Regions from separate parts of the Homo sapiens genome. Here region 2 is linked to region 1. Evidence: fine-mapped expression QTL. Tissue or cell type: blood mononuclear cells. Region 1 holds a variant in brackets; the other region holds the start of a gene. All regions are shown on one strand. Distances are from middle to middle.

Region 1 (8,179 bases):
CCAGAAAGACAAAGGAATATGAGGAGACCTCATCAGGATGGAAATCACAATTTTAAGGCAGATACATGTTTTTGGAAGATCAACCTTATGCAATATTGAGTTCATGAAAATGAGGAGGTCTAAAAGTAGGGTGACCAACCATCCTGGTTTGACAAAGACTGATAGATATTTCCTGGGGTGCAGGACCTTCAGTGCTAAGACTGGGGAAGTTTCAGAAAATGCACTGATAGTGGAAATCTAAAGTATACTCAGAAATATGTTGATCGTCTTATCTAAAAGATGGTGACAGATTGTGGTAGCTAGTCTCCAAAGACGGTTCCCCAATAAATTATACCTTCCTGAATCTGTGACTTTGTGTAATCCTATCCCCTTGAATCTGGGTTGACCTGTAGCTTTTATTTTTTTTGAGATAGGGTCTCAGTCTGTCACCCAGACTGGAGTGCAGTGGCATGATCATGGCTTACTGAAACCTCAACTTCCCTGGGCTCAGGAGATTCTCCCACCGCAGCCTCCCAAGTAGCTGAGACCACAGAGGTGTGCCAACATGCCCAGCTAATTTTTGTATTCTTTTGTAGAGACGGGGTTTCACCATGTTGCCCGGGCTGGTCTCGAACTCCTGGGCTCAAGCGATCCACCCTTCTTGGCCTCCCAAAGTGTTGGCGTTACAGGTGTGTGCTACCATGCCCCACCGTGTGGCTTATTTTTGACCAACAGAATATGACGGAAGCCATCTTGGTGTGAAATCTCAGACTAGGTCATTAGAAACCTTACAGCTTCCACCTGGGTATCTTGGCATATTTACTCTGAGGGAAGCCAGCTGCCATCTAAGTTCAACTACTTTAAAATCACCAAGCTCAAACTAAGCATATGGGGAGCCTGTGTGCAAAGAGCGAGATGCCTGTGCAGCCGCCAGCTGTCCCAGCTGTCCCAGCTGAAGCACCAGATGTATTAGTAAAGAAGCCATGTGGGACGTCCAGCCTTCAGAAGACGGCAGCCACGCGAGAGACTCCGAGTGCAAATCACCCAGCTGAATCCAGTCAGTCCACACAATTATGATAAAAAATAGTGGAATATCTGTAATCCCAGCACTTTGGGAGGCCGAGGCGGGTGGATCACGAGGTCAGGAGATCGAGATCATCCTGGCTAACACGGTGAAACCCCGTCTCTACTAAAAATACAAAAAATTAGCCGGGTGTGGTGGCGGGCACCTGTAGTCCCAGCTACTCGGGAGGCTGAGGCAGGAGAATGGCGTGAACCCAGGAGGCAGAGCTTGCAGTGAGCTGAGATTGCACCACTGCACTGCAGCGTGGGAAACGGAGTGAGACTCCATCTCAAAAAAAAAAAAGTGGAATATTATTTTAAGCCACTAATTTTTTCCTTAAAAAAGCTGTGGTAAGCTCATGCTGAAGGCCTATTTCCTAACCTACACTGGAGACTTCTTCCTTACTCCTGTGCCTAGGGGAATGTGCCCAAGCTCTGGGCAGAGTGCCCCGTGCTCATGCAGGTAGACGTTCCCGCTTCCCACTGCAAAGCCCACTAAGCAGCACGATGTCCTGCTCTTTTAGTTATCCAGGCACCAGAAGCCCAAAGGGGCAGCAGAAAAATACTGACAATAGAGGTAAGTCCGTTCTGGGTAATTCAGTTCATAAAGCTCGCTTTGGAGGATTTCATTTCTCCATGTTAAATACAATATGTTTTTCTTTTGAGACACCTCTTTTCGGCAGGAAAATCCTGCCATCATCATTTCCCATTTGAGTTCCGTGAGCTTCTACCTAGAGGCAAAATGGAAATGGGAATTTTATAATGAAAGAAGCAGACGGGGAGAGGAATCTGCCGTCTTCTTAACAAGCCAGTAAGAGGCACTGAAAATCTCAGAGAGCTGCCAATGACAAGCATGCTCATTCTCAGCGCAGCTGCTCTTTTACAAATCGTGGTAACATAAACAATGTAAAATCACCATTAACCGTTTCCAGAACATTTTCATCTTCCCAAACTGAAACTCTGTACCTTTTAAACAATAACTGCCCTTTCCTCTCTCCCCGAGTCCCTGGCCACCCCAGTCTACTTTCTATCTCTGTGAGTTTGATTCTCTTTGGTACCCTATAAAATGGAATCATAGAGTATTTGTCCTTTTGTGCCTGGCTTACTTCACTTAGCATAGTGTCCTCAAGGTCCATCCATGTTGTAGCACGTGGCGGGACTTCCTTCCTTGTTAAGGCTGAATCATATTTCATTGTATGGATGGACTACATTTTGGTTATCCACTCATCTATGGTTGGACATTGGGTTGCTTCTGCCTATTGGCTGTTGTGAATAATGCTGCTGGGAGGATGAAATGTGCAAATATCTCTTCAAGACCCTGCTTTCAATTCAAGCCACTGAATGTTGAGGTGGTTTGTTACATAGCAATTGGCAACCGGATGTTGAGTCACGATTACAGCATGCCACCAACATGGTACAAGGATGATGATCACTGAAGGAGAGAAGTGTGTTGTCCATGTGAGTGCATGAGGTCCAGCTGGAGAGATTATTACCTGACTTAGTGTCACTAGGATCTCTGCTTTGGAGTGGAAGCTCTCACTTTCCTGCGTGCCCAGGAGAAAGCATAAGGCAGGCAGGCTGTAGAGTAGCAGCCATTTAAAAATTGCACTCATAACTGTGTAACAACAAAAGAAAAGATTATTCTGGATTTGCATTCAGATTGGGCAGACTGCTAGTGTTTCTTCCACCAGGATGGTCTGAGAGCCAAGCTTGGAAAATCAGAAGCGATTGGGTCATCCAGTGCAGGACAGTTTAGCACCATGAATGGCTAATTAAGCTTGGATTCCATCACAAACTAGAGGGGATACATTTTCTTCTGTTGAAATTAATCAGGGCCGAGGAAGGAAAAAAAGAAACCATGGCCGCCTTTTTGAAACAAATCCAACAAACACGTCAGAGGGAAGCTCCACGCTGCACATGGTGATCTGGAAGTAAAGCAGGTGAGCCCTGCCCTCCTGAAGCTGGACCCTGGCACTGGTGATGAGGATAAGAGGTTTCCCAGCTGTTTAAAAGAAAACAGTGTGTCAGCCGGGCATGGTGGCTCCCGCCTGTAATCCCAGCACTTTGGGAGGCCGAGGCGGGCAGATCACTTGAGGTCAGGAGTTCGAGACCAGCCTGGCCAACATGGTGAAACCCCATCTCTACTAAAAACACAAAAATTAACCAGGCGTGGTGGTGTGCGCCTGTAATCCCAGCTACTCGGGAGGCCGAGGCAGGAGAATCACAGGTGAACCCAGGAGGCAGAGGTTGCAGTGAGCCAAGATCGTACCACTGCACTCCAGCCTGGGAGACAAGAGTGAAACTCCGTCTCACAAACAAAAAACAAACAAACAAAAAAAACCCCACAAAAAAAAGTGTATCAATACAAAAAATTTGAGGTATACTAAGGCCAACGGAGAGGATTAGGAGATAGTTTCACACAGTTCCCAAGAGGAAGGTGTGCACCACACCACAGGGCCGCACAGGGAAGCAGGAGGCAGAGCGAGAGGGGGGCTGTGGACAAGAGCCTTTTTTTGTGATTTCCTTGGGAAGAAACAGGAAGGCAAAGTAAACAGACTCGGGATTGGCCAGTTTGCTAATTTCAGCAGGCTCTGGGGTATAGGGGCTGTCCCTAATTGTCTGGTACCTGACTTTGGGTGATTAGGGAAAGTGGATAGTGGCCCAGCATGTGAGAGACCAATAAAGGAGGTGGTTGGGGTGTGGGCTCTGGATTGGTTGGTTTGTATTTGAAAAGTGCGCCCCTGGGAGGAGGAGGACTCCCGAGGAATGGGGGGTGGCACAGAGGAGGCGACAAGGGAGGCCTGAGGCTGAAGCAAAGCATACTGTTGGGTTTTCCAGATCAAGGAATGTTTGGTGTATGCA[T/A]GTAGGACAGATATTAAAACATCGACTTTATAGACGCCAGAAACATGGTCAATACATTGGCCCTGTGACACTTTAACATCAAACTAAGGCACCTTTGCAGCAATGATGGATGAGACTTAGAAAGAAGGCCATCATTTGCCCTAAATAGTACAGAAAATATTTTTTATGAGAGTTGAAAGGAGGAACAAAAATTGAAGTATAAGGAGTCCTTGTAGGCCAGCCTGTATCTAAGTTTCCCATTCACATGGCATTAGCAGACGAAATAGATTTGAAATTTCCAGGGTCTCTACCAATATCTTGGTGGATTGCAGAGTATGTTAAAAGTATGAGAAATATATATATATCTCAAAAAAATTGGACAATAATATCTTGGTGTATTTCTCAGGTCATGGTGGCAAGTCCTGCAGTTATCTTGTTGGAGGGTATTATCTGAGAAGTCAGTAAAGTACATGTAAAGACTGGTGATATTTGTGTGTAACCAAGGGGATGGGGTGGTTGTGGTCGTTACAGTTGGGGACAGGGCAGGAGGTCCTGGTGGAAAGCTGGAGCATACAGTAGAAGTCACTAGGGAGTGTATGACCCTCTCCCCAGGGTCCAGAGGATTCACTGGCCTGCAGCAGCTGCCTCTTGGGGAAAATAATACTCTTCGTCAATTTTAGAATGGCATTGAGAGTAGTAGCTTCTACCAGGTTTTCCTTTAGGTGTGGAGGGGACGGTGCATGTTTTGGCAGAGAGCAAGGAACATACCAGGATCATGGGCCAAGCAGACAGTAAATTCAGGAAACACAATAGAGTTCCTAATTCAAAAGAAGAAAAGCAACAAATGTCCATGTCCATTTTGTCAGCACCTTGAGAGTGTCACTGGGTTGGAGGCTTTAGTGTCCAGGTGATGTATCTCTAATAGCGATGTCTTGGGCTAGGGTGATGTTGTCTAAGGTGATGTCATCTCCAGCTGCGAGCTTCTGAGGAATGTCATCTGGGATGTGGGTCTGAGGTACCCTGTGCAACTGCAGAAAGTTGGATGTGATTAAGATCTTGTCTGCAAAGATAGTGTGCAATGGCAAAGCTGTTGAGGTCCCCATGGGTAGCCTAGAAAAGGTAAATTGTGACCCGTTAGAGGTGAAGGCAAACTGTGCTGAAAGGTTGTTGAAGGAGGCAATGAACAGAACACAGCAGCCAAATCTGTAATAATAAAATACCAGTCATTGACTGGGTGGTGCCGATTATTTTAATAATACTGAATATTGCATATGGGGCTTTTCTTTTTGCCAGGAACTTCCAGTTTTTATTTTTTTAAACATCATTTAACAAGAAAAACATTCAACCAAATTAAAAAAAATTAGGTTGGATTATTTTACAATAAAATAATCAACTTGAAATATCAGCCCCTCCATTTAGGGCCAAGGAGGCCAATAGTTCCTGTTTAAACAGCAGAATTGCGCAATTATTTTTACCTATATTTGATGACACACAAAAATAAAAGTCTTAAAATTTCCACGGACACCCTCCCCTCCCTCCAGAGTAGAGTTCATACAATTGCATCTTAGATCAGTACTCAGGCTTTTAAAAATCATCTTCCATTTTGAAATATAATACAACTACTCTGGTAACAAGAATACTTTTAAAACAATTCTTATAGAAAACAAATACCTTAAATCATTGTGTGGCACATAAGACTGCTCAAAGAAACAGCAAAAATGAAAAATAATGTACAAGAATTATAGTCCTTTGTTTATAGAAACCATCCAAATAAAATATTTTCCCTAATTTTCCTTGCTTCTTATAGTTTATTAGCAGAGATGAATTACAAGAAGCAGAATGCACCATATTTTGGTTCTTGGTTGTAGCTGCCAGCTTAGGAGTTCATGACTATAAATATCAAGCAAATATGATTTTACTCACAAGTTCTGGAATGGGAAAAAAACCCAGATATCTCTAAAGTGTTTCTCTATCCTTGCTTTCAAGTCATGACAAAAAAATTCACAGCAGTTTAAAGGATGGTGAAAGACGAAACATGGGCCCATTAAAATAGAGATTAATTTTACGTATTACACTCCTATAGTAAAAACTGTAATAAGTATGATATTGTATTAAGTAACATTCTATAGTAAGCTGGTGGAGCAAATACAGCATTTAACAGGTTCATTTACAGACCAGGCATAGTAGCCTTTAGAGAGAACATCTTATTTTCACAGTCTTGAACATGTAACCTTTACAAAAAACCAAACGGAATATGTAATTTATGACAGCTGGCCAGGCACTTAATTTTGGGAAACAGAAGGATTTTGAGGTAAACTAGAATTATTTTTAGCAATCACAAACATAGCCTATAAACCACATTTACACCACACTGAAGTTATTGAGCTTTTAACTATAAGTTTGTCACTCCTTTGTGCCAAAATACACACCTAGGTGTAACTTTTTTTTTTTTGAGACGAGTCTCACTCTGTCACCCAGGCTGGAGTGCAGTGGAGTGATCTCCACTCACTGCAACCTCCACCTCCTGGGTTCAAGTGAATCCCTGCCTCAGCCTCTCAATTAGCTGGGACTACAGGCACGGGCCACCACCATGCCCAGCTAACTGTAACTTCTTAAGAAGCTATTCAAAGAACATGGTCAAGTCTGAATTTTGGTCTCGCATATGGGGCTCTTTATGCATGGAACCACAGATTAGAGTTGCGGTAATCCACCATCAGGCACCATTTTTTTTTTCTGTTTCCCCAAATTTTGACAAAATTGGATTGTCAAATGGAGAAGCAGTAAAGATAATCCTTCTATTAATTAGGTTTTATATAGTCAGGTTTTTACTGATACGTAGTAGGTGTACATATTTTGGGGGTAATGTGATACTTTGGTACATTCATATAATGTATAATAATCAAATCAGGGTAATTGGGATATCCTCACCTTAAACATTTATCTTTTCTTTATGCTGAAAACATTCAAATTATTCTCGAAGTTGAAGCTGTTTTGAAATATACAATAGATTATTGTTTTCTATAGTCACTCAACTCATTTATGGAACACTAAATCTTATTTCTTCTTTTTTTTTTCTTTTAGAGATGAGGTCTCCCTATGTTGCCCAGGCTGGTCTTGAACTCCTGAGCTCAAGCAATCTTCCCACTTGGGCCTCCCAAAATGCTGAGATTACAGGCATGAGCCACCATGCCCAGCCTTCTTTCTTTAAAAGAAATTTCTTTATGTATGTATGTATGTATGTATGTATGTATGTATGTATGTATCTATCTATCTATCTATCTATCTATCTATCTATCTATTGTTAGAGATAGGGCCTCACTCTGTTACCCAGGCTGGGGTGCACTGGCATGATCATAGCTCGCCTCAACCTCTCGAGCTCAAGCAATCCTCCCACCCAGCCTCCGAAGTAGCTGGGACTACAGGCGTGCGCCACCATGCTCAGCTAATTTTTTAATATTTTTTGTAGAGATGGGGTCTCGCTATGTTGCCCAGGCTGTTTAAAGCTACATTCCTTCTGAAATTGATTTTTGTGGATAGTTTAGGATATGTTTTAAGATTTTCTTTTTGCATATGGCTATCTAATTGATCTATCAGGATTAATTTCTTAAATATATTTTTAATCACTAATCTATAGTATTTCCTTTGTCACAGATATGTGTCCACACGTGTGTGGGTCTGTTTTTAGGCTCTGTTCTTTTCTATTGGTCTATTTTCTATTCTTGTTTCAACATTACTCCTTTAATTCTTGTAGCTTTATATTAAGTCTTTACATCTGTAAGTGAATTTCTTTTATTTAGTTCTTTCTTCTTAAGAATGTCTTGGCTTTTCTTGGTCCTTTTCACCTCATTTAAATTTTAGATCAGATTTTCAATTTTCATATCTAAAACTCTGTGGGGAGTTTGACTTATTTAGTGTTAATTTTTAATTGGATGTCAGAATGCTCCCTTTCTCTGTTTCCGATTTTTATTATTATAATTATGATGTTTCACAGATGATAGCAGGATTACAAAATATCAGAAAGCAGGGACTCACAGCTTGCTTAGTTAGGTAATTGCCGTTTTCAATGTTCAAATTGCGAATTTGGTGGCATAAGGTTGTTACTTTAGATTGTAATTGGAAAACTTTGGGGCAGGACTCTAGGACTTACTTTTGACCCTCATTCCACCCCTTCCCTGCTCTTCATTGTTCTAAAAAATGGGGAAACAGGTTGATTGAACACATACTATTTAACTTTCATGAAAGCAGGAATATGTTTGTCTTGGTCACTATTGTATTCCCAGCACTTAAAACAGTGCCT
Region 2 (8,179 bases), 39 kb after region 1:
AACGGCGTGATCATAGCTCACTGCAGCTTCAAAGTTCCAGACTCAAGTGATCCTGCCACCTCAGCCTCCTGAGTAGCTGGGACTACAGGCATGCGCCATCAGGCCCAGCTAATTTATTTTTATTTTTATAGAGACAAGGTCTCACCATGTTGCCCAGGCTGGTCTCCAACTCCTGGGCTCAAGCAATCCTCCCACCTCAGCCTCCCAAAGTGTTAGGATTACAGGCATGAGCCACCATGCCTGGCCATGTTCTGCTTTTAAGGCATGACTTCATTTGTGCACCTCCGTACAGCGATATGGCCTATGGAGCTGCCATGGTTAATGTTTGTGTCCTTCACTGATCTCCACTCCAGTCACGGAGAGAGCAGCCCAGGAGAAAATGACACTGTCTAGTTCTTAGGTGGGTCATACATTCTTCTTGGGGGCTGTCTTAGTCCATTTGTGCTGCTATAAGGGAACATCATAAAATGGGTAACTTATAAACAACAGACTTTTCTTTCTCACAGTTGTGGAGGCTGGGAAGTCCAAGATCAAGGCACTGGCAGATTCAGTGTCTGGGGAGGGGCCGCTTTCTTGTTCATTAGATGGCATCTTCTCCCTCTGTCCTCATATAGAAGGAGGGGAAAGGCAGCTCTCTGAGGCTTCCTTTATAAGTGCATGAATCCCATTTCTAACCTCCCAAATGCCCTACCTCCTCATACCATCACATTGGTGATTGCATTTCAATACATGAGCTTTGGGGGAACACAAACATTCAGACCATAGCAGGGGCCATTATTATTATTATTATTATTTTATTATTATTTTTGAGATGGAGCCTCACTCTGTTGCCCAGGCTGGAATGCAGTGGCACCATCTCGGCTCAGTGCAACTGCCGCCTCCCGGGTTCAAGCAATTCTCCTGCCTCAGCCTCCTGAGTAGCTGGGATTACAGGCATGCGCCACCACACCCGGTTAACTTTTGTATTTTTCGTAGAGACAGAGTTTCACCATGTTGGCCAGACTGGTCTCGAACTCCTGACCTCAAGTGATCCACCCGCTTTGGCCTCCCAAAGTGCTGGGACTACAGGCATGAGCCACCGTGTGTGGCCCACAGGCCATTAATTTTCTCCATTGCAGCCATTGGTGCCAGTTTCCACTCTGCTGTCTGAGGGCAGTTTCAATCTGTAAGCCAACACCAGTTGATTTGTAGCAGCTGCCTAGAACCCTGTGCTGACAGGAACTGTGAGGTCAAGTTCAGGTTCAGCAGGAGGGCGGCCTCTGATTTAGCACAGTTGTCTGCAATAGATACATTTCCCTGCAGTCTGCTCCTAACTGTAAAGAGATGATGTTAAACAACTCCAGGGCAGTGCTAGGATCCTAATGAACATAACCTGATCACTCCCTGTGTTTCTGAGTCAGACAGCTGTCTCCTTTCACCAATACGGCCTGTATATGGTTATGATACATTTACAAGCACAGAAGTTTATGGACACTGTCATTGTGTTTTGGATTTGCACCCTGACCCAGGCATTAATTTATTTAAAAGAATATTTTAACATTGTCAAAGAGTTGAGCATCTTTAAATTGTTTCTTTCTCTGTTTTTTTTTTTTGTTGTTGTTTTTGTTTGTTTTTTTGAGACAGAGTCTCACTCTGTTGCCAGGCTGGAGTGCAGTGGCAAGATCTTGGCTCACTGTAACCTCCACCTCCCGGGTTCAAGTGATTCTCCTGCCTCAGCCTCCCAAGTAGCTGGGACTACAGGCGCATGCCACCACACCCAGCTAGTTTTTGTATTTTTAGTAGAGACAGGGTTTCACCATGTTGGCCAGGATGGTCTCGATCTCTTGACCTCGTGATCCACCCGCTTTGGCTTCCCAAAGTGCTGGGATTACAGGCATGAGCCACAGCACCCGGCCAATTCTGTTTCTGTTCTTTCTAACTTTATTGCATTATGGCCCGGAAATGGGATGTGTAAAATTTTTGTCCTTTTATATTTACTAAGTCTATATTTTTTTGTTTTCAGAATATGATCAAAGATATTTCTATTTCTTTGCAAGTCTATTAGCTCAGATTTTTCAAAATTATGTTACTATTTTGGGTATACATATAGATATGTTTTGTTTCATGTGCTTTTTTTTTTTTTTAACCATTTCTGGCTTTTCCATCTTGCACTTTTCCTTCCATACCCTGTGCTCTAGATTCTATGATCTAATATCTGTTTGTCAGTTAAGACTGCTTTCAGCTCTAGAGACCAGAAAATCTGACAGACAGAGTGTGAATAAGCAAGGGAAGGAGATGAGGCTGAAGAGGCAGGCTCAGGCCAATGTGTAAGCTTTTATTCCATCACAGTGAGAAGCCAGTGGTAGGGTCTAAATGGGGCTGTGGGGGTATATTATGTTTTTCATGTTTTTAAGAGATCACTCTGGATGCTGAGTGGAGAATGGACTGTGGGAGGGCAAGAGAGGCAGCAAGGAGAAGGTTTGGAGGCAGTCTTGGGCAGCAGGCCAGTAAGTGACGAAGGTGGCTGAAACTGGCTGTAGAAACGCAGAGAGCAAGAAGAGGCTGCAATCAGGATGCGTGCTGCAGGCAGGGCCACAAGACTTACTGTGGGATTGCATGGCGGGTGAGAAGGGAAGAAGTCAGGGGTGAGTCCTTGTACTAGAGTCATCTGGATACTCCGCTCAGGGAAGAGGCGCCACATCTAGGGGTTATCAGCAGCCAGAGAGGAGGACTTAAAGCTGCAAGACTCTGTGGGGTCTCTCTTGAGAAGAGGGCAGTTTATATCTCTCAATACATTTTTCAGCTGATATTTACATAGATAGAATTTATTTTGCATCTTCAAAATATGCAACATTTTAAACTAAATGGTTTGCTGGAAAAGCTTCACGGTGCTTCCAAATACAATTGGTAGACCATCAGGATCACACCAGTCACTTTGTGGAGTTTTGGAATGTCGACAAAGGAGAGGTACATCCGTGATGTTTCAGTCTTGGGCCACTGCTACCACACACAAAGCAACTGTCTGGTGACAATTACATTAAATATGAGGTGACCAAGAAGCAATGCTTTAAGCCTTTTACATCTTAACATGTTATTAGTAGCTGTTATTTATAAAACATCTAGCTGCCATATTGTGATCTAGGAAATTAGTAGGGTTTTTTTTAATTAACTTGCCACGCCTTATAATTCTGCTGTTTAAAATAATGGGAAACAGGTTCTCATTAGGTTTTTCCTTGGAAAGAAAATGTGACATTTCAGTCATAGATTACATTTTGACTTTTTTTTTTTTTTTGAGACAGAGTCTCACTCTGTCGCCCAGCCTAGAAGTGCAGTGGCGAGATCTTGACTCACTGCAACCTCTGCCTCCCAGGTTCGAGTGATTCTTCTGCCTCAGCCTCTTGAGTAGCTGGGATTACAGGCATGCGCCACCACACCCTGTTAATTTTTGTATTTTTAGTAGAAAGCGTTTCACCATGTTGGCCAGGGTGGTCTTGAACTCCTGACCTCAGGCGATCTGCTCGCCTCGGCCTCCCAAATTGCTGGGACTACAGGCGTGAGCCACAGCACTCAGCCAGATTACCGATGTTTTTAGTGGCAGATGACTTTCCGGCCTTGTCTTAGTTTTAATTTTTTTTTTTGAGATGGGGTCTTACTATATTGTCCAGGGTGGTCGTGAACTTCTGAGTTCAAGTGATCCTCCCACCTCAGCCTCCCAAAGTGCTGGGACTACAGGCGTGAGCCACTGTGCTCGGCCAGATTACTGATGTTTATAATGGCAGATGACTTTCCAGCCTTGTCTTAGTTTTATTTTTATTTTTGGAGATGGGGTCTCACTATATTGCCCAGGCTGGTCTTGAACTCCTAAGCTCAAGTGATCCTCCCACCTCAGCCTCCCAAAGTGCTGGGATTACAGGCATGACCCACTGTGACTGGCTTAGTTTTAAATTCTTAATTATTTACCTTGTAAACTACTTAATTCCATTTCTTCCACATCTCATAGAAAAACTGATGTTCCAGGAAGATGTATCACCAATATTCTGCTGTTTTGTATCCTGCCAGTGCAGAATTGGGGCTGTGCCTCTCTAGTTTGAGAAGCATGTAGTAACATACTTGATTTTGCCCTGATCAGTAACGTACCGCATGCTGGGAGCCGCAGTCTCTTAACCGCTCCAAGCCCGTGACAGAAAAACGAAATGGAAAAATGACTTAGGAGAATTATCACTATTAACCCCCAGAAACAACACATTATTAAAAGCGGTTCTGAAGGGCTATTTAAAAGGGAACTCAATAGTAGTTTCAAAGGAGTCCTATTGTAAGGCAAAAATTGTGCTTTACCTTCCCGCACAACCTTCCCTAATGTTTTGGGAAGGACTGATACAAACTTTTAGTCCTGTTGGCCTGTGTTAATAATGGCCAAGAGGTCCCCAATGGGTAACAGAGTCCTGTGAACCAAACAGTGTGAGAAGTCAGAAAGCAGCTGGGTGTGGCCCCCAAAGCAGCTTAGGGGGTTACTTAACTGTGCGGCTACATTTCTTGACCATATACTAAAGGAACTGGGCCTTTCCATGCGATGTTTTCCTTTTATAACGGTGGCAGGAAGCGGTCCCTCTGAGGGGCCTGACCGAGGTATGCGCCGGCGCCAGGCTGGGGTCCAAGGGGCGCTCCGAGGCGGGGCCCACAGAGAGGGTTTAGGGCAATTCCAAGGGATGGCGGGGACGGAGGAAAAGTGGCGTTGAAAAGGCAAGAGCCAGGTTCCCAGCCACTGGGACAGTGAATTTACAGCTTCAGACATCCACCAAAGAGCGGCTGCGTGGGCTCCTAAGAAGTCTAAGAACTGCTCAGAAATCCAGCGCCGCCATCCCCACTCCACCGCCGCCAGGGGCGCACAGCAGCGGGTATGCGGCCGGAGGGAAGGGGCGGGGCGGGAGGAAGGGGCGGGGCGTGCCCCGCCAGCGGAGGCCGGGAGGACCAGGAACCCAGGAGAGCATGGCCACGCTGCGCCGGCTTCGGGAGGCGCCGCGGCACTTACTGGTTTGCGAGAAATCCAACTTCGGCAACCACAAGTCGCGCCACCGGCATCTTGTGCAGACGCACTACTATAACTACAGGGTGAGTCCGGCTGTCCTCGGCTTTTCGGGCCGTGCTCAGTCCCCGCGTGCGAGAGAGGTTTGGGGAGAGTGCTAGGCTTCGCGGGGCGGGGCCGCCGGCGGTACGCGGAGGGGCGGGGCCCTCGCCCGGCTTGCTGGGAGTTGTAGTCTCTTAACTGCTCTAAGCCAGTGGCTTGCAGGGCTACAGGACTACAACTCCCAGGATGCGCCGGGCGTGGGGGCGGTACCCAGTCTGGAGGGAGCTGTTGTCAGGGGCGTTCTGGCTGCTCACTCGTGTCAACCCGCCGAACTGGGAGTGAGTCCAGGGAGGGATTCGAGGTTCAGGGCCGGGACCAGGGAGTTAGGCTGTGGGGCAGCCACGTGCACCTCGCTTTTTCCCCAAATCAGGGCGGGTCTCGCGCCTCCTCCCCACCACTGCCTCCTCCCCAGCTTGAATCCCTCTCCCACCTGCGTACCTGTGGATCTCACCAGAGCATCCTGCCTAGGCTCGGCCCAGGAAGCGACTGATTTTCCTTTTTTTTTTTTTTTTTTTTTTAGACGGAGTTTCGCTCTGTCGCCCAGGCTGGAGTGCAGTGGCGCGATCTCGGCTCACTGCAGGCTCCGCCTCCCGGGTTCACGCCATTCTCCTGCCTCAGCCTCCCGTGTAGCTGGGTCTACAGGCGCGCGCCACCACGCCCGGCTAATTTTTGTATTTTTAGTAGAGACGAGGTTTCACCGTGTTAGCCAGGATGGTCTCGATCTCCTGACCTCGTGATCCGCCCGTCTCGGCCTCCCAAAGTGCTGGGATTACAGGCGTGAGCCACCGCGCCCGGCCGAAGCGACTGATTTTCTAAATTGGTTGTTGGAACTAATTTGATATCTGAGAGACTTCAAGAAACTAACCTTATCATGGGGGATTAAACATTTTACACTTTAAATGGATCAGCTTAATAACTCAGGTTTGACTGAGCAGTGTTTCAGAGATGTTAAGTGGTGACCTGATCAGTCAGAACAGGCTGGTGTTTGAGCCTTGGGACAGTGATGACTTTTACAATGTGGCAACATTTGAAGCCTGCCCTGTTTTTAACACCTATTTTGGATGTCAAGCTCATCACAGCAGTCAGGGATGTATACTTTAACTCGCCTGTTGCATTTTTCTGTCTCGAAAATGAAAACATACAGGAGCACCATTGCTTGCACATAGATTCTTAGTAATTGGATGTCCATAAATTAATTCCTTATGCCCCGACAGATAGTTTGTTTCATTCCAGGATAACACCAGGGTAAACAAATCAAGGGATATTCAATTATACTATATTTCCTTGAAAATAAAATAGTGAAAGGAACAGGACATAAAATATACAGCATTGCTAATTTGCAAAAGATTAAATGCAAGCACGAGTTTTCCATTAAAAGTATTCTGTTCAATCCCCTTCCTGTACTGTACGTTTGAATGCAGAAATGAAAAACTTAAGTAGTCAGATTTCTCTTTGCCTGAGATAGGTAAGTTAACATAAGAGTTTTGTTGCCCGTGTTTTTATGTTCCAGTGAAACTCGTGGAGAAATAACAACTTTCATGATTTTGTTTCATTCCTAAAAACCTGGGTGTTCATCTTCATGGAAGTAAGACCTTGTTTGTATTACACATTCCAATAGGTTTCATTTCTCATTCCTGAATGTGGGATACTATCGGAAGAACTGAAAAACCTGGTCATGAACACTGGACCCTATTACTTTGTGAAGAATTTACCTCTTCATGAATTAATTACACCTGAATTCATCAGTACCTTTATAAAGAAAGGTAAGAAAAACCTGAAATGGCTGTGAACAAGGCTGGATGAGGAAGGGTAGGGAGACCACATCACGATGCTAGGGCTGTTGTTTTGTTTCAAACAGGGCCTGTGGTATAGTCTGTGTGGTCAGGTGCACACGCGTTCTCCCCCGCATTCTCATCCTGTTCTTTCTTGTACCCTCTTTAGGTGGTGGTTTCTGATTGCAATTGGCCACAAGTGTTGGATGGGGATGTTGTAACATGACAGTATCCGTCCCCTTAAAATGAGGATTAATGGAGAGGAGAGACTTGCAGTCTGTGTTCAGATGCACTGCTGTTGAAGATGTGGCTGCAAAGACACTATGCTGTCAGCAGTCCCACAGCAGCTGTCTCAGAGGGTTGGTCTCCCGATACAGCCACAGCTACTGTTCACAGAGCAAAGTGCTTGTTGGGGTCCAGTGTCTTCTGCTTAGATTTTGTAGCCATAACCCCTCCTCTACTCACCCCATTTCCACCCATATCTGCTGGGTTGGACTGGTTTGTTTCAGTTGATTCCTGGGAGCCATTTGTTTGAAACTATTTCAGAGGGCCTTTAGGGATTCCACCCACACTACATAACTCACCTGTACAGTGGCCACATGCTTATCTTGTGGTAGCCCCCATGTGTGTCCTCTCCAGTGAAGATATGAAGAACTCTAGTTACCAGTAGCTCCTCTCATTCTGACACTGCTGGGGCGACTTATGAGCTGGGCATCTTGTCTGGTCTCATCACCGTTATTCCTTTCATCTATTTCAAGGCCTGACACCACTCTGTGAATTACGTGGACAATGGCTGTAGCAGGCACTGTTAAATGTCTTACCAAATTTAACCCTTGCAACAACTTTATGAAGCAAGCCTATGATCCTCATTTAACAGTGAGGAAACTGAGGCTTGGAGAGGTTGGGTAGCTTTTGAATCTTAACCTGGAACTCTGTCTCTGAGAGGTGTATGTTTATCTAGAATTCTACTTTGGACCCCTCTCCGCGCATCCCCAAAGGTCACGTTCCGTTCTGAGTCAGTTTTTTGCTTGATGATAGTAAACTTGCACAAATAGGCTGTTGGTCAGGGAGTGAACTAGCTGGAGCTTGGTCTTCTGCAAGCTTGGTCTTCTGCATGCTTGGTCTTCTGCATGCTTGGTCTTCTGCATGCTTGTTCTTCTGCATGCTTGGTCTTCTGCATGCTTGGTCTTCTGCATGCTTGGTCTTCTGCAAGCTTTGTCTTCTGCATGCTTGGTCTTCTGCATGCTTGGTCTTCTGCATGCTTGGTCTTCTGCATGCTTGGTCTTCTGCATGCTGCAGCTTA

The links. PIP is the estimated chance that this variant, and not a neighbour inherited with it, causes the effect.
Region 2: it holds the start of RPP40, and the variant in region 1 is fine-mapped to the expression of RPP40 in blood mononuclear cells (TOPMed, PIP 0.99).

What each region holds. Positions count from the first base shown.
Region 1 is chr6:5,039,319-5,047,497 of GRCh38, reverse strand. All of the region lies in intron 2 of LYRM4-AS1 (LYRM4 antisense RNA 1), which reads right to left. It also overlaps a transcript of LYRM4 not described here. Among named protein-coding and RNA genes, the nearest start is that of RPP40, 39 kb to the right of the region's middle. RefSeq lists an enhancer at 1,677-2,876. The variant T/A (reference allele first, on the strand shown) is at 3,904.
Region 2 is chr6:5,000,789-5,008,967 of GRCh38, reverse strand. RPP40 (ribonuclease P/MRP subunit p40) reads left to right here and starts at 4,931. Exons shown (of 8, transcript NM_006638.4): 1 at 4,931-5,088; 2 at 6,723-6,867. The coding sequence starts at 4,966. LYRM4-AS1 (LYRM4 antisense RNA 1) reads right to left here and starts at 5,152. Exons shown (of 4, transcript NR_126015.1): 1 at 5,009-5,152. RefSeq lists silencers at 1,207-1,407, 4,821-4,950, 5,081-5,330.